Linked DNA regions of Homo sapiens. The protein of the gene in region 6 purifies or fractionates together with the protein of the main gene of each other region. This does not show direct contact. Each region holds a gene or a part of one and is shown on either strand. Other genes may lie near its edges.

The links.
Region 1: the proteins of MAPK9 (region 6) and PRKD1 purify together in Homo sapiens (affinity purification with western blotting, with the first as the bait; one study listed by BioGRID). This does not show direct contact.
Region 2: the proteins of MAPK9 (region 6) and SERPINB5 purify together in Homo sapiens (affinity purification with mass spectrometry; 3 studies listed by BioGRID and IntAct, with this or other methods). This does not show direct contact.
Region 3: the proteins of MAPK9 (region 6) and DUSP14 purify together in Homo sapiens (affinity purification with mass spectrometry; 3 studies listed by BioGRID and IntAct, with this or other methods). This does not show direct contact.
Region 4: the proteins of MAPK9 (region 6) and PKP3 purify together in Homo sapiens (affinity purification with mass spectrometry; 3 studies listed by BioGRID and IntAct, with this or other methods). This does not show direct contact.
Region 5: the proteins of MAPK9 (region 6) and PPM1A fractionate together in Homo sapiens (co-fractionation; one large-scale study listed by BioGRID). This does not show direct contact.
Region 7: the proteins of MAPK9 (region 6) and DUSP8 purify together in Homo sapiens (affinity purification with mass spectrometry; 4 studies listed by BioGRID and IntAct, with this or other methods). This does not show direct contact.

The regions. Positions count from the first base shown.
Region 1 is NC_000014.9:29,578,914-29,581,847, forward strand, and holds part of PRKD1 (serine/threonine-protein kinase D1), read right to left. Parts: intron 1,178-2,934; exon of another isoform or gene 1,052-1,177; intron 1-1,051.
Region 2 is NC_000018.10:63,483,458-63,486,957, reverse strand, and holds part of SERPINB5 (serpin B5), read right to left. Parts: intron 2,537-3,500; 5' UTR 2,530-2,536; coding exon 2,362-2,529; intron 13-2,361; coding exon 1-12. UniProt on the Homo sapiens protein: Tumor suppressor. It blocks the growth, invasion, and metastatic properties of mammary tumors.
Region 3 is NC_000017.11:37,492,891-37,496,390, forward strand, and holds part of DUSP14 (dual specificity protein phosphatase 14), read left to right. Parts: intron 1-3,500. UniProt on the Homo sapiens protein: Involved in the inactivation of MAP kinases. Dephosphorylates ERK, JNK and p38 MAP-kinases. Plays a negative role in TCR signaling by dephosphorylating MAP3K7 adapter TAB1 leading to its inactivation.
Region 4 is NC_000011.10:392,931-397,008, reverse strand, and holds the start of PKP3 (plakophilin-3), read right to left. Parts: upstream 2,801-4,078; 5' UTR 2,717-2,800; coding exon 2,485-2,716; intron 402-2,484; coding exon 322-401; intron 196-321; coding exon 1-195. UniProt on the Homo sapiens protein: A component of desmosome cell-cell junctions which are required for positive regulation of cellular adhesion. Required for the localization of DSG2, DSP and PKP2 to mature desmosome junctions.
Region 5 is NC_000014.9:60,287,221-60,290,720, reverse strand, and holds part of PPM1A (protein phosphatase 1A), read right to left. Parts: exon of another isoform or gene 2,166-3,500; intron 916-2,165; coding exon 807-915; intron 1-806. UniProt on the Homo sapiens protein: Enzyme with a broad specificity. Negatively regulates TGF-beta signaling through dephosphorylating SMAD2 and SMAD3, resulting in their dissociation from SMAD4, nuclear export of the SMADs and termination of the TGF-beta-mediated signaling.
Region 6 is NC_000005.10:180,285,584-180,289,083, forward strand, and holds part of MAPK9 (mitogen-activated protein kinase 9), read right to left. Parts: intron 1,485-3,500; exon of another isoform or gene 1,392-1,484; intron 1-1,391. UniProt on the Homo sapiens protein: Serine/threonine-protein kinase involved in various processes such as cell proliferation, differentiation, migration, transformation and programmed cell death.
Region 7 is NC_000011.10:1,558,772-1,562,271, forward strand, and holds part of DUSP8 (dual specificity protein phosphatase 8), read right to left. Parts: intron 285-3,500; coding exon 118-284; intron 1-117. UniProt on the Homo sapiens protein: Has phosphatase activity with synthetic phosphatase substrates and negatively regulates mitogen-activated protein kinase activity, presumably by catalysing their dephosphorylation.

The DNA.
Region 1 (2,934 bases), on a different chromosome or scaffold from region 6:
GAAAACACTTTAATTGCTTTCACTTTGCTTTTGCTTTCAAAAATAACCAATGTATTGGAATTATATCAGCCTTCATAGACTTTCTAGAGGAAGACAGGAAAGAAGTCTATTTAACAAGAAATGTTCTCTGAGGGGTTAGAACCACAATCCCTCTGGCCTAGTACTCTGCTTGTGACTGGGGAGTCTGTGAGTGTAATTTATGAAGAAAAAGTAATACTCATCGTTATCTAGTCTGAAAATCATCCTAGTTACCCACAGTATCATGTGATGGAGTTCTCACTCTCCTTTTCTGGACATTATATTTTCAGTATACGTCATTAATAGTTCATTATTTATTAAAGTCATTCCCTCACACTTCTCATTCTTGTAATAACTTCCATGTTTCTCTTTTTGAATTTTAGCATTTTCTTCCCAAAAAGAGCTTAGTGAAATCTGCCAACCTAATAGGAAGCATTTATATTTCAAAGAGTTAATTTTTGCCCTTAACCTACCCTAGGCATTATGTCTGAAAGATGGCTCTTCCTACCAAAAATCTTAATCAAACAGGCAGCTGATAAACGAAAATGAAAATTAACTCCTCATCTTTCCCTATCACCAAGTCTTGAATAGGCAGCTTTGAATCCACTTTTTGGTGTGCATCAACCTGTATGGACCTGAAGATACAGACTGTCACATGAGACCAGAGGAACAAAGACTGCTTCCTTCAATCAGAATCCTTCCCAGTGTCAGGCAAAGAAAAGTGACTTCTACAGTCTTTTGGTAATTGAGAACCATATCTCTATGGAGCTAATGTTACAAGTATTTGCCTGCCCTGAAGGGCTGTAGAGTCAAATATCAAACAATTATTTGGAGAAATGAAATGCAACAACACACATTTAAATGTTGCCTATGCCTATACACTCTTGCCTTACCTAGGATACCTGAAGAAATACAGTACTCAGTACATTTTCATATTCCAAGCATGTGTTCTCAGAGAGCTTTTAAAAGTATAGTTCTGTGAACTGCGTATAGGGCATGTGCTTTAAAATATCCATTCACATGATTTACTCACTGGTGAGTAAAGTGCACCTTCCATTCTTGCTGCTGTGAAGTCACCCGGCAAAAATGGAGGACAAGGAGTGAAGGGAGAGCTTATGTGCTATTGCAAGCTTGCTGCAGCATTACACTGCCCTAGACACTGCAGGAAATAAATTCATGTCATTAATTCACTCATTCTGTTTGGAATTCTGTAATTAGAAAGGCAGGAGTACAGTAACTCAACAAAAGGTCTCGTTTGTGCCCAAATGGGCCCCAACAGTGAACCACACTGCATAATGGGGAGGGAAGTACTATCAGAGGGGAAACTAGAAGTGTCTGAAGGGAATGGAATAAGTAAAAATGAAAAAATTGTTCTGCTGAATGAAGCATACAATCATTAGTCTGACTACGCCACAGTACCCAACCCAAGTGACCTGAGTAAGCACAACAAGGCAATGGCAACTACTTCCAAGAGAAAATGGTTAAGGATATAAGGAGAGAATTAGAGGAGAAACGTGTATGTATAAATAAATGTGTGTGTGTGTGTATACATACATTTTGTGGCTTTTGGAAGCACACAACAGAAATAATGAACTATTAAATGTTAGCACCTATAGCTAAATGTTGGGACCACGGTATTAGTGAGAAAATAGGTCCGTCATTTGTAGTTGAGAATTCTGTTCTGCTTGTTACTTTTCTGGAACTCTTAAAATATCCTTTTTATTAATCAAGTTGTATACAATCCAGCATTAACTATACCATCCAAAATGCGTTTTACTAAACATTTTTGAACACAGTTTAGAGGCTTTTTTCCTTCCAATATTCTCTTTACTGGCCATGTCTACATTGATACAATATTCATGTAATAAAATAGTCTCAGATGTATTATGTATGTATAAATCATTCATTTATCTGTTCATTCACCAAATCTTCCTTAATTCCTGTTGGCAATTACTTATGAAATAAAAAGTTAATGATCAAGCCCTGACCCCGAAAAGCTCACAATCTAGTTGCAAAGGCACATGCATGCCCCTCCCCAGACCACAGATGACATCATGACACAATACACCATTCTGAATCTTTGACCTTTAATTCATATCCTACTCAAAGCAAAAAAAAAAAAGTGTTTTCTTTTTATAACTTACTGTCATTAGTCCTATTTATGTTTTAGATGCAATGGAAAACTTTATTCTATATGACAGTTCTTTACATCTTTGGAGACAGTGATTCATTCCCCTTAATCTCACCTCTATAGTTCCTTCAGATCTTTCAGCCTGCTTAGTCCTCCTGTACACCTCGATTTTAATAGTCACTAGCTCTACTCAATGTCCCTGTTAAAATTCAGTGATCATCACTGACCAACATTTTCCTCACTAACTGCCAATTTGAATTATACGCAAATATATTATTCATATAGTCTAGGATTGAGGGGTTTTCATTCTTTTTTAAAAAATTACATTCATATTCTTATTTAGTCCTTATAACAACCCCCTGAAAGTAGTTATTATTTTAATCTCCATTTTAATAAAAGGAAAACGTGACGCTTCAAAAGGCCATGTAAGTTGGTCAAAGTCAGACAGCTCCTAGGCAATACAGCTGAATTTGAAACCCAGGGGGACTGGAATTCAAAGCCTGTGCTCTTAAACACTATGGCAGACTGCAGCCATATTATGCCATTAACTTATCATTGTAAGTGGATAATTATCTCAAAAATTAACATTTTATTTTTACAGTCATGATAATTACATTCTTAGTTATGTTTCCACCACACTTTTATGTGCTTGAACGCAAGGATGTGTGTGTATGTGTATGTACATCTCTGTGACCATAGCTCTGCCTCATATCGTTAATTCTCCTAGCTTTCTGTCATGCTCACACCGAATAAGCCCATCTGCTATGTATTAATACAATTATTAG
Region 2 (3,500 bases), on a different chromosome or scaffold from region 6:
AAAATGAAGAACCTGTTAAGAGAAAAATCCGTTACCCAAAAAGCATTGCCTCTGAGTAGTGCTGTACTGAAGTGGACACGTGATAATGACCAACGTCCTTGGGCATACAGACTCCTCCTGCCTAGTTCCCGTAAAGTAAGGCTCCTCAACCTCAGCACTATTGACATTCAGGCTGGATGAGTCTTTGTGGGGCTGTCCTGGGCACTGCAGGATGCTTAGCAGCATCGCTGACCTACTAGATGCCAGTGGCATCCTCCTCCTATTTGTGAGAACCCAGAATGTCTCCAGACATTGCCAGATTATCCCAGAGTGGGAAGGGGAGGACAAATTGTCCCCACTGAGAAACACTACCATAAAGGTACTCTTCCAAATCAACCATCGAGAACATTTGTCCTTTCTTCAAAGTGATGCCCTTAATACTCACACAGAAGGATTTCCAAACTTGGAGAACGATGAAGCTGGGTTATAATTTCTATCCAATTCAAAGACCAGAGAGAGAGATTGATACAAGAGACACCATCATCAGGCAGGAATCAGATTTCAGGACAAGTGCCTCTAGCCAGAGTCTGTCTAGTCCCTCTGGGTGCTTTAGCAAATGCCAGGTAAATAGATGTGTCATTTCTGATGGGCAGCTACAATAAATGGTGGGCTGCCCTGGGCTGGCTAGAGTCAGATGGCCCTGCCTGTGAATCCCAGCCTTCACCACCTCTTCTCCAACTCTTCAGAGAATCTTCTCCAACTCTTCAGAGCCTCCTTTCCTCTCCGTAAAATGGGCTGAAAATACCTGCTTTCCTGAGTTGTTAATGAGGATTACTTATATGTAAAACACGTAAAATATTATATGGATTCAAACTGTTAATTATTCTTGTAATAATATTGTAAGCCATTTAAAACCAGGATACTATCATTTGGAGGGCTTAAATCATTGTATTTTTTTCCTTTTTTTTTTTTATTGTTCCAACCAATAGTCCAGCATCTTTTCTGCCTTGCAACACCACAACATGTAATGTCAGCATAAGATGACACCCTCCTCGCTCCATAACTCATAATGGCCATGCTGTGATTCCACAACCCAGATAACGAACGCTGCCAAACCGGCACATTGTCCCAATGAATTACATAGCCTCAGCATTGCAGGGTCAAATGCTGGTCCCAGACAGTGCATAACTCTCATGCCTAAAGATGGATGAAGGAGACCAGAAAATTTAAGAGCCCAGGTAACTACTGCTGGGGAACCAGTTGCATATACTGAGAAGAGCTTGAGGAATTACTGAGGAACAGACCCACTACCCGGAAGTTCTCTTTCGCTGGCCTTTCTCTAATGGTAGATGAGAAATGAGGAATGGGAGATTGGGTAGGGATAGTGGAGTTGCGCAGTTCAGAGATGTGGCTTGATGTCAAGATACATCTCCTCTTCACAGGAGTGAAGCTGCTTCAAGTCCCAAGTGTAAATTCTTCATCCTTACCTAAATAACTCTTATGGGCCATACTTTCTGGACACATATGAATACAAGAAGGTGTTGCCTTTTTAAATGCTTATGAGCTAATAGAAAAGAAATTCTATTGAACCTAGAATGATTAGCATAAGAGTAATAATGAAATAGAATTAGAAGAACATTCACCTATTATGTAAAAGTACATGAGGACTTAAAACGGAACAATCAGGAAAATTGTCTCATTTGAAGGTCTAAGAACTTTACAAAGCTAGATAATCAACCATAGCCAGAAAGAAACCCTAAAACGATACAGATGCTGCTTGATTTATGATGAGGTTACATCTCAATAAAACCATTGTAAATTGAAAATATTATAAGTCAGAATGAAAAAGCTGTGATTACCCAGCAGATCTCCAGGTTCTCCATCACAGCCTGGTGCCTGTCCCAGATGTGAGTTGCATTACCTACAAGCGAGCTTTCACATTTAAAAATAAATTAAGATGCCTGTAATCCCAGCATTTTGGGAGGCCGAGGCAGGCGGATCACCTGAAGTCAGGAGTTCGAGACCAGCCTGGCCACATGGTGAAACCCTGTCTCTACTAAAAATACAAAAATTTGCCTGGCGTTGTGGCACGCGCCTGTCATCCCAGCTACTCGGCAGGCTGAGGCACAACAATCGCTTGAACCTGGAGGCTGCAGTGAGCCAACATCGCACCACTGCACTCCAGCATGGGTGACAGAGTGGGACCCTGTCTCACAAAAAAAAAAAAAAAAAAAAAAGATTAAGAGAGTCCTGGAATGGCACAGTTCTGAATCTTGACCAATTCTGGCCACAAAGTCTACATTCCTTTTTTCCGTAGGCACTGCCTATGGGTTCTAATAACTGTATTCCCACTTAAAGTAGAAACAAGGTTTTGGGGCTTACCTGTCCAATTTCATTTGCAGTGTCACCTTTAGCACCCACTTGAGCAAGTGACAGAGAGGTGGAGAGACAGATTGGAGAGAAGAGGACATTGCCCAGTGGCTCCTTTTCACATAGTTGTTTGAACAGATCAACGGCAAAAGCCGAATTTGCTAGTTGCAGGGCATCCATTGCGGGCCTGGAAGCAAGGACAAGGGAGCAGTTAGTTTCTAAAGCATCTTTAACGTCTTCTCAACTGCATTCTGCCAACACTATAAGAATTCTATTTAAACAAAGTAATTGATCTCAGAAGAAACAAGGAACTTTCTGTAAATTCAAAAGTAAGATCAGTTGTGAAGAAACTTCCAGGCAAATGTCTGAAGGCATGTGAGGTCCTCTGTGTGTCCAGCTCTGCCTAGACTCTGCAGTCTTGGGCCTGCTCAGCCACAGTGGCCATTGTCGGGAGCCCAGTGGTCACATCTCTTCTCCAGCATATGTCAGAAAAGTTGACAGCACTAATCAACATCAGTTGGTTTTATTTATCACATATTGTTTCCATTAGGATTTCAGTTAAACTACAAAGTTAAAACTTTTATAAAACAAAAACAGTCGAATTGCAGCAGTTTTGCATTGTTCAGTTTAATATTTAGTAAGTGTAATGGGTTGAATTGTGTCCCCCAAAAAGATATGTTAAGTCCTAATCCCCATTACCTGTGAATGTGACCTTACGTGGAAACAGGGTATGTCCTATTTCTTAACTAATATATAATTAGTTAAGATGAAGTTACATTGGAGTTAGGTGAGCCCTAATCCGATATGACTGGTGTCCTTAAAGGAATAAGAGGAGAGACACAGAAACAGACATACACAGAGGGAAGATGTGAAGACACAAATGTCTTCACCTGTGTGAAGGGCATGCCGTATGGCAATGGAGGCAGAGATTGGAGGGATGCTTCCACAAGCCAAAGAATGCTAAGAACTGCTGGCAACACCAGAAACCAAGAGAAAGTCATGGAACATTCTCCCCTGGAGCCTTTTGAGACAGCATGACCCTGCCGACATCGTCATTTCAAAGTACTGGCCTCCAAGCCTGTGGGTGAATAAAGCTTCTGTTGCTTTAAGCTGCCTGGTTTGTGGTGCTTTGTGAGAAGTGCTAGAAAACC
Region 3 (3,500 bases), on a different chromosome or scaffold from region 6:
AAATATAAATCCCTAATTGACATAGTTTTATTTTGCTTGTTTTTAACCTCAGTGCAAACTAAAAGTAGATACTCTTGTGAATCCTTCCTTCTGGCCGGCATCGTGTGTGTGTGTGTGTATGTGTATGTATGTGTGTGTGTATGTATGTATATACACACGCACATATATAATTTTTTAAATTTCTGCAGCATGCTATTTTAAAAGATTTATCCATATCGTTGCCTATGCCTGTAGTTTTTGTGTTTTAATTTTTTTAGAGACAAGGTCTCACTATATTGCCCAGGCTGGTCTTGAACTCCTGGGCTCAAGGGATCCTCCTGCCTGGGCCTCCCAAAGTGCTGGGATTACAGGTGTGAGCCACCACACCCAGCCCAGTTAGTACATTTTTGTCTTATGAACATACCACAAATTACCTTTCCACTGTTGATGGACATCTGGGTTGTTTCTGGTCTGGGGCAATTATGAACAGCCCTGAGTCAGGTGTGCATACCTTCAGCTTTACTAGTTGATACCTGGTTTCCAAAGTGGTTGTACCAATTTACATTCCTTCAGTGGTGTCAGCCTTGAGTTTGTAAGTCACTGTATTTGCTGTTTAACCACAATTATGCTTGAATATTTTCTGAATGAATGAATAAAGGTCCCTGGGTAGTCCGATCCCTGGCCTGTCATGTGCTAGCGTATTTTTATTTAGTTATATGGTTTGGACTAACCACCCAAATACCAGAAATGGTTTTCCCACTGTGTTTGGTTGACAAATATCTAATGGAATCCTTTCATCAATCTTTTTTTTTTTTTTTTGGAACAGATGAGTAGTTACAGGAAATTTTAAATATGCAAAATGAAGTACTAAAAATAAGTGGCTAGTACCTAGATGTTTTTTAAGGCTCTTGAATGAATCCTGCCTCTGGTGAATGCTTCCATTGTGCCCAGCCCTAAATGTGTAGGACAGTGTAGTGTGCAGGAACCCAGGCCTATCCTTGTTAAAGTACCCTCTGAGGATGAGACTCCTTAAGAGGCACTGTGCACAGACCCTAACTCATACTTCTTGGCAATTCCAAAGTAACCACAGACTCTGTGCTACAGGAATCAATGACTCTTTTAAACTTTTTTTTTTTTTTTTTGAGACAGAGTCTCACTCTGTCGCCCAGGCTGGAGTGCAGTGGCGCGATCTCGGCTCACTGCAAGCTCCGCCTCCCAGGTTCATGCCATTCTCCTGCCTCAGCCTCCCTAGTAGCTGGGACCACAGGTGCCCGTCACCATGCCCGGCTAATTTTTTGTATTTTTAGTAGAGACGGGGTTTCACCATGTTAGTCAGAATGGTCTTAATCTCCTGACCTCGTGATCCGCCCGCCTCGGCCTCCCAAAATGCTGGGATTACAGGCGTGAGCCACCGCACCCAGCCTTTAAATCTTTTAAATGTATTTTTCTCCAAATTTTCCTTTGCCTGAGAAAGTAGAAGTAGCTTAGAGCAGAGTTTTTGTCGTTTTTGTTCATTTTCTTTGTAAGAGATGGAGTCTAGCAGTGTGGCTCAGGCTGGCCTTGAACTGCTGGGCTCAAGGGATCCTCCCACCTCAGCCTCCTAAAAGCTGGGACTGCAGCATGTGCCACATCCAGCTTGAATTCCTGCTTTGTGAACAGACAGTTACCAGGCTCACTTTGATTGCCCGTGTTTAGTTTTGCCAGCTGGATTTGAAGTGTGTGTGTGAGAGAGAGTGAGAGAATGTGAGAAAGAGAAGGAGCAGGAGGGAGGGTGTGGGGAGAGGTGGGCAGTTCACCTGAGGGCAGCCGTTAAATTCAGGTGTTCATTGAGTACTTACCATGTGCCTAGTATTATGTGCTGTGTTTCTGCCCTTAGAGCAGAATGTTACGCAATTCTGTAGGTTTACAAAATACCTCAGGGGAATCCTTTTTAGCTGGAGGGATGATGGAAGAACACTAGCACAAAGACTGAGATTTGTAGATCCTTTTTATTTCTTCTCTAAAGCATCTTGGAAAATAGCTAAATCACTCTATTTTCAGTCTTTATTTACATAAGTCACAAAGACTTTTTTGCTCATTATAGTAAAGATTTTTTTTCAGATTCTCTAAAATAATGATAATTTTAGAAACCACATGCGGATAAATTAGAAGTTTTCAGGAAAAGACACCCAAAGGAGGAGGAGTAAGAAGTCGTTAGTATGAGAACCTGTTGATCTGAGTGATGGGGGAGGAGCCCTGTCGTGTTCTTTGTCACCCCTTCGGCCTTCCAGCGGGCAGCTTTCACAAAGGAGCTCCATTTTCCACCTGTTGCAGGGCAGGGGCAGCCTCAGCCTGGGCGAGGGAGGAGGCCTAGGGCTGAGATCACAGCCATGCCCTTTCATGTGCAGCCCACCCAGCTCACCTGGGCACGTCCCATTCTGTTCTTGCACCAACCTAGAGCAACCAGAGGTCCGGTTGGGTCAGCTTTTCACACCCCATGCCATGTTGAAACCTCAGTGGACGAGAAGGTTCTTTTGAAGTTCATATGCAACTGCTGGGTTTACTTCTGTCTTTGTCCCAGAACAGTTTCAGCATCAATGACCTAGGGCAAGTTTTTTTGTTTGTTTGTTTGTTTGTTTTGACTCCTATGTCTTTGAGTGTGTGGGTACATATGAGAAAACTCCCTAACTAGAGCATGCTGCTTCTGTTGACTAGTAAACATTATGTGGCAGAGAGCGCCTTCAAAGCACCAGCCTTCCCTGCCTGGGAAAGTGACCAGTAGGTGAACTTGCTTTAAGTTTTGTTTTTTTTGTTTTTTTGTTTTTTTTTTGAGACGGAGTCTTGCTCCATCACCAGGCTGGAGTGCAGTGGCGCGATCTCGGCTCACTGCAACCTCCGCTTCCCAGGTTCAAGCAATTCTCCTGCCTCAGCCTCCCGAGTAGCTGGGATTACAGGCGCATGCCACCACGCCCAGCTAATTTTTCTATTTTTAGTAGAGACAGGGTTTCACCATGTTGGTCAGGCTGGTCTCGATCTCATGACCTCGTGATCCACCTGCCTCGGACCCCCAAAGTGCTGGGATTACAGGCATGAGCCACCGCGCCCAGCCTGCTTTAAGTTTTAAGGAAGCACTTGTAAAAATAAAATCTGGAAGTACTGTCAACATACAAATTACATACAAATTTGGAGATTTATAATGAAGAATTTTGCCAATTTAGCTAAAATCTAAATCTTAGATTTAACTAAATCTTTTAAATCTTTGTGTTTCATTATAAAACACAAAACATTTATAATGAAGACACACTTCATGTCATCATTATAAATCTTTGGTGTTATCCTGGCTCCTATATAAAGAGCACTGGCAGGCTCAGGCCAGAAGTGGAGAGGGGGCTTGGACCGACAACTATGTGTTGTTAATTTTCTTCTATTAAAAATATTTTTTACTTTTAGAAATTGAAATCATATAGAAAATTATGCTGGGCACAGTGGCTCACGCCTATAATCCCAGCACTTTGGGAGGCTGAGGCAGGTGGATCACTTGA
Region 4 (4,078 bases), on a different chromosome or scaffold from region 6:
CCCACCGCGCTCATGGAAGGACACGGGCCTGGTGGGCATGGGAGGGGTGGGCTGGGCACCCCCGTACCCAGCGGCCCCAAAGGCGCTGCCCCCGTTGTGGGCTGAACTCAGCCTCCGACTGCAGCTCAGATCCACGGCGGAGCGGGAGGACCAGGAGGCTGGGCTGTAGGCCGGCTTGGCGATGGGCCGGAAGCCCTGTGGGTCGAGAGGGGGCGGTGAGGGCGTGCCTGGGCTCACCTGTGTCCGGGCCCGCTGCAGAGCCTCCCACTCTCCAGACTGCAGAGCTCAGATCGTCCCCCTCGGGCTGGGCCCATCGCTCACCGAGGTCTTGTCCCCACTCAGGCCCTGAGAGCGAGAGCTGAAGCCAGCCTGCAGGGTGTGGTACTGCCCCCTGGATGTGCCTGTGGAGAGGGACGGTGGTAGCCCAGCTCTGCCACACAGCAAAGCACTGGCCTCCTGCCTCCTCTCCACCACTCCATCGCTATTGGCAACCCTAGGAGCAGCCTCCAATCCAGGGCAGGGAGGCCAGGGGGGCACCAGGGCCAGTGCCTCCCCATTCCTGCCATGGCTTGGTCTCCTCACATGTCAGCCCTGGTGGTCCATCTTCCACAGCCCACCCCCCAGCTGTGCCTCCTCTACCCGAGAGGGCAGATACGCTCACCCACTGACCTCCTGGTCGCCAGGAGGAATGTGCCAGGGCCTCTGACATCAGTTCTCCAATCCTTGCCATGGTACAGTGCCCAGCCTCCTCCAGGAAGCCAGCCTGGCCTGCCCCGGCCCACACTGACTCCTTTTGAGCCCCTCCTGTGCCCAAACCTCATCTGTGCCCGGTCACAGGAGAGTGACACTGTCTCCCTGGACCAGTATGCCCTGTTGCAGTGCCCTGTCCCACCCGGCAGAGCCTGAGGCAGGGGCCACACCCACCCCGTCCAGCCACACACACGCCAAGGGCAGCTGCGTCAGCCCGACTCCACAGTGAGTGGACAGACAGGTGGGTGGGCAGAGGGTGGAGGGCGGAGGGTGGATGGAGGGACAGGCAGGAGGAGGATGGGAGGGCTGCTGTGACTGCTGGAAGGATGGACAGAGTGGTGGATGGAGGGGTGGGACAGCCGTCGACGACAGGGTCCCATGGTTGGATGGTGAGTGGGCAGAGGGATGGACTCGTGGATGGGTGCAGAGAGGATGGGCTGATGGTGGGGGCATGAGAAGGCCCACCAGAGCGACCTGGCTGAGGGGCTCAGGGTGGGGTGCAGGGAAAGGGGCCGTGGCCCTCCCACAACTCTGCCCAGAGCTGGATGCTCTGTGGGGGACACCCCCATGGCAGAGGCCCCAGGTTCACCCTGGTTAATGGGGCTTCTGGGCCGGGGCTATTAACCCTCTGACGCTCGTGAGGCCCAGCCCGGAGTGGGGGCACGCCCCAGCCTGGGGACCTCACCCCCACCCCCCAATTATAATCCACCTCCCTCTAATTGGCAGGGCAGCCAGGGTGGTAATTAACCCTTCCCTCACCGTCCTCCACCCCATGACCCCTGGGCACCCGACTTGGTCACCAGCAAGGCTGAGGCCCCTGGAGGGAGGACCCCACAGTCCAGGCCGCCGGGCCGGCCCCTCCGCTGGGCGACCTTCACTTCCCCCTGGCCAGTGGCTGGAGGCCAGTCCTGGGGAAGGCCCCTCTAAACACCAAGTGGACCATGATGAACTGGCATCTGGGTCCCTGGCATTCTGGGAGGTCCATCTTACTGTCTAACCTTAATCCCTGTTGCTGTAGCCTGGGAAGGAGGAAATGGCGTTCCTAGAACCACTGCCTTCAACTCACAGCGTCTGTGCTCCTGTCACTCACACTCACACGCATGCACACACACTCGCGTGAGTGGGGCCAGGATTCCGCCACAGGTGGGTCTGGCTGGCACCGAGGGGTGCTCCTCCACCTGCTGTTCCCACAGAGAAATCTAGGTCACTCCAGCCGGGCCCTCCCCTCTAATTCCTCAGGGAGCCCCTGGTCCAGACAGGCCTGGCTTTCCTCCAGGACTTCCAGCACCCCCACACCTCTCCCCGCTTTCCCGTTCTGCTCATTCCCGTGAGGTATGGGAGGAGCGTGGGTGTCTGGGTGTCCCTGAGACCCTATGTGAGTCTGTGCTACCGGGGCCAGGCGCGTGCGTGTTCCGGGTTTGCCGACCGAGTGGCCTGGCCCGCCTGCCATGTGCCAACCTTCCCTGTCATCCCCCACAGGGATGGCTCCAGGACTCCAGGCACAGGTGGGGCCTGGCCAGGCTCAGTCTTTGGAGGACCCCGGGGTCCCTGCTTGGACAGGGCAGCCCCACCCATGGCTTCTCCCCACGCCCCTGGGGCGGGGTGTGTGACTCAGTGTGAGGCCTGGTGAGTCAGGAGCCGGCCTCACTGCGGCCTCTGCCCTCACACTATCACGTCCGCCCGCAGCCACCTCTCCCCGCCACCGCCATCCCCGCCGCTGTCCCCACCGCCTACCTCTGGCAGTCTCGGCCTCAGGCTCGGGCTCAGCGGCCCCGTTGTGCCGCGGCTGCTGTCCCAGCTGCAAGAGGCGGGCGCGGACCTGCTCCTGGACGCGGGCTGCCCGCAGCCGCTCGGCCTCCGGCCCCTCGGCGCCCCGGCGGTCCAGCTGCAGGTCAGAGGGCAGCGCCAGGGAGCACACGCCGGCCTCAGGCTGCAGGGCCGACAGCAGGAAGTTACCGTCCTGCATGGCGGCAGGTCCACCGGGCCTGGGCCTGGCGGCCGCCTCCAAACCCAACTATCTTCACGTCCTGTCCCTCGAGGCCCTCTCCCTGAAGTCCCCGCCCAGCCAGCCTCACCCAGAGCCGCCTGAAGACAGACGCCTGCCCAGCCCTGAGCGCAGCTGGGGGCGGGGACACCTGGCCAGGTGGGAGGGAGGGGCCGCCGCCTGCTTAAGGTGGAATTTGGGCGGAAGAACAGGCCCTGCATGGCCCCAGGTCCCAGCCTGGCCTCCCGCCTCCTTTTCTCCCATCCCACAACAGGGCCACGGGGACCTGGGTCCTTCTTGTTCTCAGCCTGTAAAGGCCAGACCGGGCCCTTTGTCGTGGGGCTGGGACAGAGGGGCCCTCTGTGTCCTGAGTGTCAGGGAAGGGCAGGGGGCCTGCGGGGGGCCTATGTCCTGCCACCCCCAGCATGAAGGGGAGGGTGCCCCAGTCCCTGGGGGTCTAGGGCCCTAGGTAGCTCCAAGAATCAGCCAGCCTCCATGGTAGCCCAGCCTTCCTGGTGAGGTGGGGATGAGGCCTAGGAAGGGTTGGCAGGAGACACTGTCGGGAGTCAGGGGTCAGTGCCAGGGATCAGGACAAAGGCTGGAGGGACAGAGCTTTAGGGTCCAACGGGACTCCATGGAGGCCCTGGCCCTGGTCCTTGGAATCCAGCGAGCCCCCTCCGCACCAGGAAGCATGTGGATGGACCGGCCCTCCCCCGAAGCCTGCAGACCCTGGAACTCACCCCCAGGACCCCCTCACCCCCTACAGAGGCCTCCAAAACCCTCTCTGGCTTCTGGGACCCTGGCACCACTGCTCCTGCACCCCAGGCCCTGGGGTGGGAGGCCGTTCCCAGCACATGAGTCAGGGTGCAGGGGGGCGGGGCCGCCCCAGGGGGTTGACTCAGAGGGCCTGCACTCCTGTCAGCGCATGTCAGGCTGGGGCAGGAGCGGGTGTGCAGGGAAGAACCAGGGGTCTGGAAGAGCAGAGGCCTGGATGGAGAGGGAGCGAGGGTGGGGGGCCCCTGGTGGGGGTGGGGTAGTGGGGGGCCCCTGGTGGGGGGGCCCTGGACCAAGCAGGGCTTGTGCCCAGAAGGTCTCCTTCTAGCACCACAGCCAGCAAATGGGCTCTGAGGCCCTCTAGCCTCTGGGACAAGCCCCTGGTAGATGGGGGTGGGGATAAGCCTAGGAGGGCTGGGGGTGGGAGCTGAACATCTATGACAACCTCTGGGCTTCTCTCACGAGCTCATCGGACAGCCTCTGCTTCTCCCTGGACCCTGGACCCTGGCTCTGGGCTCTCCTCCAGGGCAGACCCTTGCCCCCTAGCTCCGTCCCTGGAAGATTTTTGCC
Region 5 (3,500 bases), on a different chromosome or scaffold from region 6:
GAACATGGTCACACTTGCAAAACACAGTAGAGAATCGAGAAAATTAGTCAATAATATATCTTCACTGTAAGTACAAGAAGTCTTCACTTGTAGTTTTAGCACATTTACTCTATATCCAAATTCAAGCTAAAGGTATTTGCAAGTTTTATGTTTGTAAGTCAATTATATGGATATTTGAGGTAAAAATGTTTTAACCCTTGGAATTGCTTGAATTTTCCACTTTATTATGTAAAGGTGTAAGCTTAATATTTAACACAAAGTAGTCCAATTCTATGAACTAAAGTGGAAAGGGAAAAGACAAGAAATATATTCTATCTTCTTCCCTGACACCTAAAACCAACTAACCAGCAATCAACAACCAAAAATACTGGGAAAATCAGGCATAGAAACATGGTCCATATGAGGAAGGGGAATTTTCAGGGTGTTAAGTTACTCAGGGATTGACCAAATCAAATTATACTACTACTAACAACGACACTTAGAATTTTGTAAATTTTTATGTAGTGCTATGTAATTTAGTTTAAAAAGTTCTTTCAGTATATTATCTCGTTTATGCTCTATGAGGAAATCAATGCCAACCAAGCTTCCAATAAAGACAACCCTCACTGCAATTAGTTACAATGATACTGATACCTATGTCTAAACAAACTCTAGATATTCTAATACTAAAAAAAAATTGAAATCACAGGTTAAAACACAGATAACTGCATCAGTTCAGAAATTAGGCAAACAAACATTTTATCAATGAATACCTAACATTTTCATACACTGACATAAAGCATAAGAGTGTACAGAATGTAACTTACTTGCTTGCCAATTCACCCCCTGGTGGGAGGCTGGGGATGTTCTCACTCGCTAATGTGCGCATCACATGGACTAAGTCGGGGACGCCTTCCCCCTGCTTCTTTATGATTTCTGGGAATCAGAAGTACTTTTTTTGTAAGTGTTATCCAAATTTAATTGAAAAGAAAACCGAAACAAAGATAACCTAGCTTTTTAAAGATGGCATTTACCACATCTGAGATTTTTCTAATCTGGTATCATTTAAAAAAAAAAAAAATCAGGTTGACCTTTGAAGATTTATGACAAAAAATGCACAAAATGACATATAAGATTAACTTCAAATCAAAATTAAAATGTGAAAAAATATTTCATGTTAAATCAGCATATTATATAATCAAGGATATGTGTGCACAAGTGAGAATACCCTTTCTTAAGATGTCAACTAGTTTCTTCTTACATCACTCCTCTCTTTAGACTGGAAACATGTTTCCTGAACTTTGCCCTATATAATACACTGCGTGGAATTTTAAAAAATAAACAATTTCAAGATTTGAAAATAACAACCCTTAATTATAGGGGAATTTATAGATTATATACTAACTCAATTATTTTTATGTATATATTTATATTTGCAAAATGATACTTAAATAGCATGCACAGATTATGTACTTGAACATCACTGTCTCAGTTTAATTCTTCTCTAAAGTACCTTTAAACAATATACTGTATAGATATATAATACCATTTCCTTCACTGATTACTTCAACAAAGCCTTGAATAGAAAAGGTCTAAATTTCCTTATAAAATGTTTAAAAAGAGAACCATTTGATAAACCATACAACTGCATTTAAAATAATTTTAAAATATCCAGTTATTAAAAGGGCACAGCAATATGATCTGCAGTGTTGTCATGCAGATGCATACTATTATTCACATCACAAAATATAAAAAATTATGAACAAAGAACCTTACAAAGAACTCTACAACTATTCCTCTAAGTATAAAAAGTCTTCACTTGCAGTTTTAGCACACATACTCCACATGCAAATTCAAGTCAAAAGTATTTGTAAGTTATATGGTCAAGTTTTGTTCAGTTTGTTTTTCAATGTTTATGGTAAGAAATGGTATTTTATTTGTCATTAGTGGGGCAAGAAATCATCATTCTGCTTCTCAATTTGTAAATACCTTTGAAAATAACAATGTGTATAAAGATTCGTCCTTTGATCAGGCCTCAAAATTTTTAAAGACATGGCTACCCATAATATTTCTTTAAATGGTTCAAACTGTCCTTTTAGAATAAAGGCCAAATTTTTACCATCTATTATTTTTTGCCTTAAAAAAAAAAACAGTCTTAAATCTGAACAAAAAGCAAGGATCTCAGATTTGGTTTGCCAAGTTCCTTTATTGTGTAATCTTTAACATCTAGTATATTTGTTCTACATGGTTCTAATGCTGGAAATCTGCTGTACAAAAATAAAGGGATTTGATGTTTACCTAAACTGCACAATTTCACAATCTAAAACTAATACACTTAACATACAGTCTCCGCTAAGCCAATACAATTATTTGGATAGATAACTAGATACAATAGAAATAAACACTGATGATAAATTGAATCAATAGTTTCAGGTCTAAAAAACATTACCTTGAATCATCTATATTTGATGTATCTTACATCTCTTTTGTTAAAATATAAATTAGGATATTTTAACTGTGAAGAAAATTACAGGAAAACAAATTCTTGTAAAAAAATAATGTAAAGCTTTAAAAACAGTTAATATCTCCTGTTCCACGTGGGACAACGCATTTAAACTACCTGACCATTCATACTATACTAGCCTTGCTTCTGTCTGCTTTCAAAAAAGAAAAATAAATGAATTTTAAGAAATATTCCTTTAATTTCTGTTGACCTATACGTTTTACTTAGAATTGTAAAAAGACTGAACGCTTTTTCTAAAGAATATTTATATATAGAAGATCCATGTTTCACATACATATACACAAACACATTCTGCTCCTTTCCACTCCCCTCCACCAAGTTTCAGGGATTCTATCAGTCATCTCCAAATTAGCAACTTTAAAGCTAAGGTAGTCAGTAGCAAAGATTTTGAAAATATATACACAAAAGTATAATTTTAAATTGGCTTAGAAGGACCACAAAATTAATAGTAGTATAAATTATGAGCTGAATCTTTTCACACCCCCAGAGAGTCAAGTATTTAGAAGGGAACAAATAAGAGAAAAGGAGAGCTGGAAGGCCTTTGTCCTTTTCTATGGTGTGGACAGAGAAGCCAAAAATGTTCCAAGCAAATAAAATGAGGTTTAGTAGGTCACAGCAATCTAGTGAAGGCATGTATTTAAAGAAAGAAGAGAGAGAGAAAAGAAAAAGGCATTCAGGTGCCTGCTTTGGAAGCTGAAGGCAGTATTTTTCACTGAGGACACACAACTTTTACAATACAAACAGTTACATTCTATGTTTTAAAATAGCAGCAATTTTAATGTAATATTTATTCTCTAGTTGCAGTCTCATCAAATCTGAGTAAAAAATACCATATTTAATTTATGACAATCTCCAATTGAATGGTACAAGTATAATAACACTTTAACATATCAAAAATATTGAGTATCAATGTAAACTCTGTCCAGGTGGCAACTCTTGCTTGATAATAAGAAATATAAAACTTATTATTGTAACAAAATAACGTAAAGTGAATATT
Region 6 (3,500 bases):
ACCCTCTGTCTCAATGCTTGCTGCCGACATTTTTTTCATTAAATTGTTCTGTTTTCCAGCTGGGCAAGATGGCTCACACTTGTAATCCCAGCACTGTGGGAGGCCGAAGGTGGGAGGATCACTTAAGCCCAAGAGTTCCAGACCAGCCTGGGCAACATGGTGAGGCTTCAACTCTATATTAAACAATAATAATAATAATAATAGTAAAAATCTGGCCGGGTGCGGTGGCTCACACCTGTAATCCCAGCACTTTGGGAGGCTGTGGCGTGTGGATCACGAGGTCAGGAGACGGAGACCATCCTGGCTAACATGGTGAAACTCCGTCTCTACTAAAAAAATACAAAAAATTAGCCGGGTGTGGTGGCGGGCGCCTGTAGTCCCAGCTACTAGGGAGGCTGAGGCAGGAGAATGGCGTGAACCTGGGAGGCGGAGCTTGCAGTGAGCCAAGATCACACCATTGCACTCCAGCCTGGGCGACAGAGCGAGACTCCGTCTCAAAAAAAAAAAAATAGTAAAAATTTAAAAAGTTCTATTTTCCTACTGTAATTCTTTATTCTTTCTTTTCTTTTTTTTTTTTTTTGAGACGGAGTCTCGCTCTGTCGCCCAGGCTGGAGTGCAGTGGCATGATCTCGGCTCACTGCAAGCTCCGCCTCCCAGGTTCACGCCATTCTCCTGCCTCAGCCTCCCAAGTAGCTGGGACTACAGGCGCCCGCCAGCACACCCAGCTAATTTTTGTATTTTTAGTAGAGATGGGGTTTCACTGTGTTAGCCAGGATGGTCTCGATCTCCTGACCTTATGATCCGCCCGCCTCAGCCTCCCAAAGTGCTGGGATTACAGGCGTGAGCCACCGCGCCTGGCCTCCTACTGTAATTCTTATGAAGAATAGCTTGGTATAACAACGTAATCTTTCTTTGATAATCAAGAACCTTGCAGCTCTCAGGGCCATCCTCTGTAGTTCTTAAGCCACAGTATATACCACAATACAGAACAACTAGCATTTGGTTATCACTTCACCCACTGTTGGATCCATAGGACCCTGCAAGGATCTCCGTCACCAGCCCCACTTCCAGGCACCCAGGCCTGCCTATTTCCCTCTCAATCCCCCACTCCCAGGGCCCTGGGTAAGGGCTTCTCGTGGCTCCTTGGACCAGCGACAGCAGAAGCATTCTCCCAGCCACCATTTCTGTGACTTCCGAACCACTGCACACATGCCACTTTAGAAAGAGAAATCACTCCACGTGAGAATATGTACACAAATGTTCACAGCAGCTTTATTTTTAATAGTGCCAAACTAGAAACAACCCAAACCTGTCCTTCAATGGGTAAATGGTTAAACTAACTGCTGTATACCCATACCATGGAATACCACTCAGCAACTGCTGAAACATACCACAACTTGGGTGGATCTCAGGGGCAGGATAGTCAACGAAAAAAGCCAATCTCAAAAAGTCACATCCTGTATAACTCCATGCATATAACATTCCTGAAAAGACAAAAGTATAGAGATGCAGACTAGATTAGTACTTGCCAGCAGTTATGAATGGTGGGGAAAAGGGGCTGCTGTGGCTGTAAGGGGGTGGGACAAGGAGATATCTGGGATGATGACATAGTTTTGAATCTTGATTGTGGTAGTGGTTATAGGAATTTTCACACGATAAAAAATGACAATGAACTCTATACACCTTGCTCCGATGCCCAATGTCCTGGTTTAGACATTTTACTACAGTTGTGTAAATATGTAACCGTGGGAGAAAGCTGGGGGAAGGGTACTGGGACCTCTCTGTGCCATTTGTGCAACTTCCTGTGAATCTATAATTATTTCAAAATATGGAAAGAAAAAAGAGAGATTTGTTGAAAGTGTGCAGTGATCACACCATTCTCCCATTTGAACTCCTTCAACAGTGACTGACTGCCTGGAGAATAAGATTCAGTTCCCTAGCACAGCACAGGAGATGGCAGTCCTCTGGCCCAATCTTAGGCAACATCAAACCACCTGGGATCAGCGGACACACCCAGCTACTGCACACCTTCAGGCCTCTGCCTAAGCTGTTCCATCTGCTTGAAATGACTTCCCTCCCCTTTTTGACCTGCTGGTCAACATTCACCCTCCTTCAAAAATCTAGTTCAAGCACTTGCTTCTCTTACATGTTTCCTCCTCCAGCCTTTCCCTTCAAACCATGCTGGGCATGCCCCCATTTTTGCCACCCTCCCAGTATTCGCTTTAGATTGCATTCCGAGTCTACTTACACTTCTACTCTGTAAGGGCAGAAAATGTGTCTGATTTATTTCTCAATCCTCTACTGATTACACAGTGGGTGCCCAAAAAATGTTTGTTAAAGACAAAGCTAAATGGGAGAAAAAATGCGGTAGGGCAGCTGGGAGCAGTGGTTAAGATCGGGACTTTGACTTCAGACTCCCAGTGGGTCTGCTATTTATCTGGGTGATGTGCAGCAAGCGATTGCACTCATCTGCAACACGGACGAGCAGAGAGCCTCAGGGTACCTCTAGATAAGAAGTGCACAGCCCACTTAGGAAGGCATCTTGATGCAGGAATGCACCCTAAATCTGACGAAGCCTCGTCTAGATCCAATTACTAACTTACAGAGATTACAGAGAAACACATTCAATTACACTGCAGAGATGCAATCAATCAAATACCAACTATGGAAATGCTAAGGAACAACTCGATTGCTTCAACAAATAAACTACCAAGAAAACAAAGAAATAGGAGGGGGATCTATGGATTAAGAGAAACTTAAAAGACGTATCATCCAATCAACAACGTATGGCCTTCTCTTGCTCTACTTTCAAACTATTAAGGAAACCTAAAATTCATGGGGCAGCTGGAAATTTGAATATTGACTAGTTATTTGATGATATTAAGCAATTATTACTTTTTCAACTTTAAAAGAGTCAGTACCTTTAGAGACCTACCGAAGTGTGAAGTATAACTACTGTACACCTCCTGAGCACCCTGAGGTTGTGCCCGTATGTTTTACAGATGAGTGCAATCGCTTCTGCACATCACCCAGATAAGCAGCAGACCCACTGGGAGTCTGACTCAAAGTCCTGATCTTACCCACTGCTCCGAGCTACCCTACCACATTTATTCTCCCATTTAGCTTTGTCTTTACCAAACATTTACTGGGCACCCACTGTGTAATTAGTATCCCAAAAAATAATGAATGAAATGACATGATATTTAGGATTTGCTTGAAAATAATTATGGGTGGTAAGGGTGCAAGTGGATACCATTAGAGATGAAACAAGATTGGTCAGGAGTTAATAACTGTTAAAGCAGGACACTATTCTGTTTATTTTGTATATGTTTGAAAGTTCCCATAATAAAAGTTAAAATAAAAAGAATGATGTTGAAACTGGTTCATACAATCAAGTACAAAGTATCAGGAATTAATTATTCTGAAGGAAAATTATGTAAAAATGGCACCTTCCTAACCAAGTGTGAGGTGTAACTACTGTATGTATGTAGACCAAAAAT
Region 7 (3,500 bases), on a different chromosome or scaffold from region 6:
GCTCATCCACTGCCTTCAGCTCCTTTCCTCCCTCATCCCCCGCTCCGCTGCCAAGCTGCTTCTGGAGCTCCTGCCCCTTTCCCATTGACCACCCCCCGAACTCCACTGCACACACACCTTGTTTAGGACGTCCTTCTGCGAGCCCAGGTAGAGGTGAGGCAGGATGCGGGTCAGGCCCACGCTGGGCACAGGCAGGCAGGGCTGGGAGAGGCTCATGGGTAGCAGGGCAGCAGGCTTGCCCTCGCAGAGGCCGGGGAAGCAGGAGGAGAAGGTGGCGAAGCCCCCTGTAGGAGGAGGGCCGTCAAGTGGGTTGAGAGAACACCTAGGGCTCCCTGTCCGCCTAGGGTGCCCTGTCCGCCTAGGGCACCCCATCTACTGCTGAGGATCAGTCACACCCAGCCCAGACCCGAGCCTGAGCCCAGCCGGCAAGCCTCTGGCGGAGCACCTGCTCTGCCCGCGGTGGGGGGAGGGGGTACTGCCACACATTTACAGCCTGCACCTACGCCCACATTCCTCCTCATGCTAATTAGGGGCTGACCCAGCTGAGGACGCCGCTAGGATGCCCGTAAAGGTGGCGTTGAGGTGGCTGGCCATCACGGCACGCGCTGGGCCCAGGCAGGGGTGGGCTCAGAGGCCACAGGGGTCTCCTGCTGAGGGTGTGTGTCACACAGCCCAGAGGAGAGGCCCTCACGAGCCCGGCCATCTCCCATACCCATGGCCTGGGGCCAGGCTGGGCCTTCCTCCTCCCCTGCACTGATGCAATGCCTCCCTGCCTCCAGCTGGCTGGGAGCCCCAGGCCTGGGCTTGGGTGCCAGGACCAGGAGGCCAGGGCTTCCGAGAGGCCCTCCCCGTCCCCAGGCATGACATCACCCTGGCACAGCCCTCGGGGCATTTGCTGTCTGGTTATGGCTGTACTCCACCCAGCAGGGGAGGACGGAGAGTGGAGAAGCCCGGGGCACTGGGGGCACGCAGAGCAGGCAGTGGGCACCCGCTGCACACGTGACCAGCGTGTGCTGCTGCCTTCCACACACGTCCAAGTCCGAGGCCACAGGCTGGTGGGAGGAAGTCCCCTGCCCTGCACCAGCTGGAAGGACCCGAACGTGAATCCCTGGATGTCTGACTCAGTGACCATGGGTAGTGCACACCATGGCTCTGGTCTCAGCTTCCTCCTCCTGCCTGCCACACAGCATCATGTGGTTCCAAGAAGATAATGAGCACGAAGACACATGGTGAGAATGGACCTGGCCGTCCCTGACCTGGCTGGGGCGACCACCGATGTGGACCAGAAACTGGGCAGCACCCACCTGGTGGCTGCCAGCTCTTGGGAGGGTGAAGCCAGCATGGCCCAGCACCACCCCGAGGACACCTTCCAGAACATAAGCCCCCATGGCAAGCCGGCTCCTGCTTGTGCAGAGCCTGAGGCAGCTGGGCTGAGGCCTGCCCTATCCCATTGGACGGGGCAGGGGAGTGACGGCGGGAGCTCAGGGCCTGGGAACCCCAGGGCTCTTTTTTGTCCTGGTTTGCAGAAGAGGCTGGTGCCACATGTGTAGCAGGTGCCCACTGCCTGCCCCGCGTGCCCCCAGTGCCTAGGGCTCCTCCTCTCTCCATTCTCCCCTGCTGGGTGGAGTAGAGCCACCCTGGATAACTCCTGAGGACAGGGGAGTGTGTGCAAACCCCCAACCAGAACACCTGCTGTGCCAGCTCCCCGTGTCCCTAAAAAGGGCGTGACGCTGGGGGACTGTGGAGATAGGGGAAGCTCCAGGCTGGGTGGGTTGAGGCAGCAGCCTTGGAGGAACAGTCTCTTCTGTGGGAACCTGCTGACTGGACAGGGGAAAGCAGGTAGGTGACTTGTCACCAACGACGCCCCAGCTTGCAGGTTCCCCTGAGCAGAGGCTGGGATGGGCACTGTAGCTGGCTTCCACTCACTGTTCTGAGCTGGGGTAGCCCTGGATGTTCCCGCTGCAGGACAGCCCCGGGGAGGCGGAAGGGCTGCACCACTTCTCTGCAGACTCTTCTGCCACCTGCTGCCTCTCCTCCTCCCTGTGGCTCTCCCAGGGATTTTGTGCCTTACTCTCTGCTTTCTCCAGGGCCTGGCCAAAGGAGGAGGTGCTGGGGATTCCATCAGTACCCTCCCACCTCTCCCAGAGGAGGTAAAGGCAGGAAAGTCTCTGGACAGGTGCAGAGAACCGACAGCTATGTCAGCAATTCCCCAGGAAGCTTCCCAGGACCTCCCCAGGCGGAGCAGGTAGTGTGGATGTCCCTACACACCCCACTGTGGATGCCAGGCCTAGCAGGGACCGAGGCTCCAGGGATTTCAGAACCACCCAGGCTCTGGGGGTGAGTGATAAGTGAGGGGTGTTGGGGTTCAGTGGACCCTTTGTAGGTCCCAGCACTCTTTGGGCCCTGGGGAGGCACCCCTACCCCCAGGCATCTCCAAAGGCGCCTTCCCAGTATCCCTGCTCCCTGACTCGGGGGTTTCTGGGGCAGCGCCTGCAGTTCACCTGTTACTCACAGTGAAATCCCAGACTTGAAAAAAGGCGTGTGTACCAGGACATGTGCCTGCCCCATGCCACCTGGGAGACCCTGCAAGCGCTTATGGCCACAGTCACAGACGCACTTCTGCCCGCCACCTCCATGACCCCTGGACTCCCCGCCAGGGCGGGGGCCGCCACCCCACCCACTTGCAGTGCAGTCGCCCGGCCAAGGGTCCAAGGCCGACTGCGGGCCGCTGCTTAAAGGGCCAGGCCCCTCTCTCATCCCTTGCCGCTTGCCCCCCAACATCGTGAGCAGCGCAGCTGGAGTGGGGGAAGAGGAGCGGCAGGGGGAGGTGGGCTTCACAGCAGTCCTGGGACCCCAGCACAGCCTGTCCTGCCACTGTTTCTCTCCCGCTTCCCGCAAACCTGCCCTGCTGTGGGGAGGACAGAGGCTTGGTCCTCACATTCCGGCCTCTACTGTCCCTGCAAATGGACCAAGGAGCTGTGTTGCCTGTGCCGCGGGATCCTGGAACATCCCTTCTCCTGGGTGAGGGGCAGCACCCCTGCCCCCCCCAATATATTCTTTCCCACTCTCCCTGGTTCTTCGCAGAGCCAGCCCAGAGCAGGGGCTGTGCCCACCACAGGGTGGGAGGGAGCCTGAGGGCAGAGCCCGTGGGCCTGCCTGGGTGTCGCCATGAGCCCACTGTATACCACGGGGCCTGGGACTCCTTGGCAGCTGCACTTCTGGAGAAAAGGGGACACAGCCTCAACCTTGCAGGGCAGATGTCAGCACAGAAAGGCAGTTCTGAGGGTGGCATGACCAGGCCCTGGGAGTGCCCTCCTGGCAAATCCTAGCACAGGCCCGGCCCCTCCCATGCCCATACTCATCCACGCCCACCTGCACACCCATGCTGTCCCACCCACCAGTGCTGGGTGAGGGCCCCAGCCCCCCAAACCGTCCCACTCTGGCCTCGAGGGAGACAGGCCCTTCCAGGCTTGGGACTTTCCTGGGATCTGCCTGCAGGT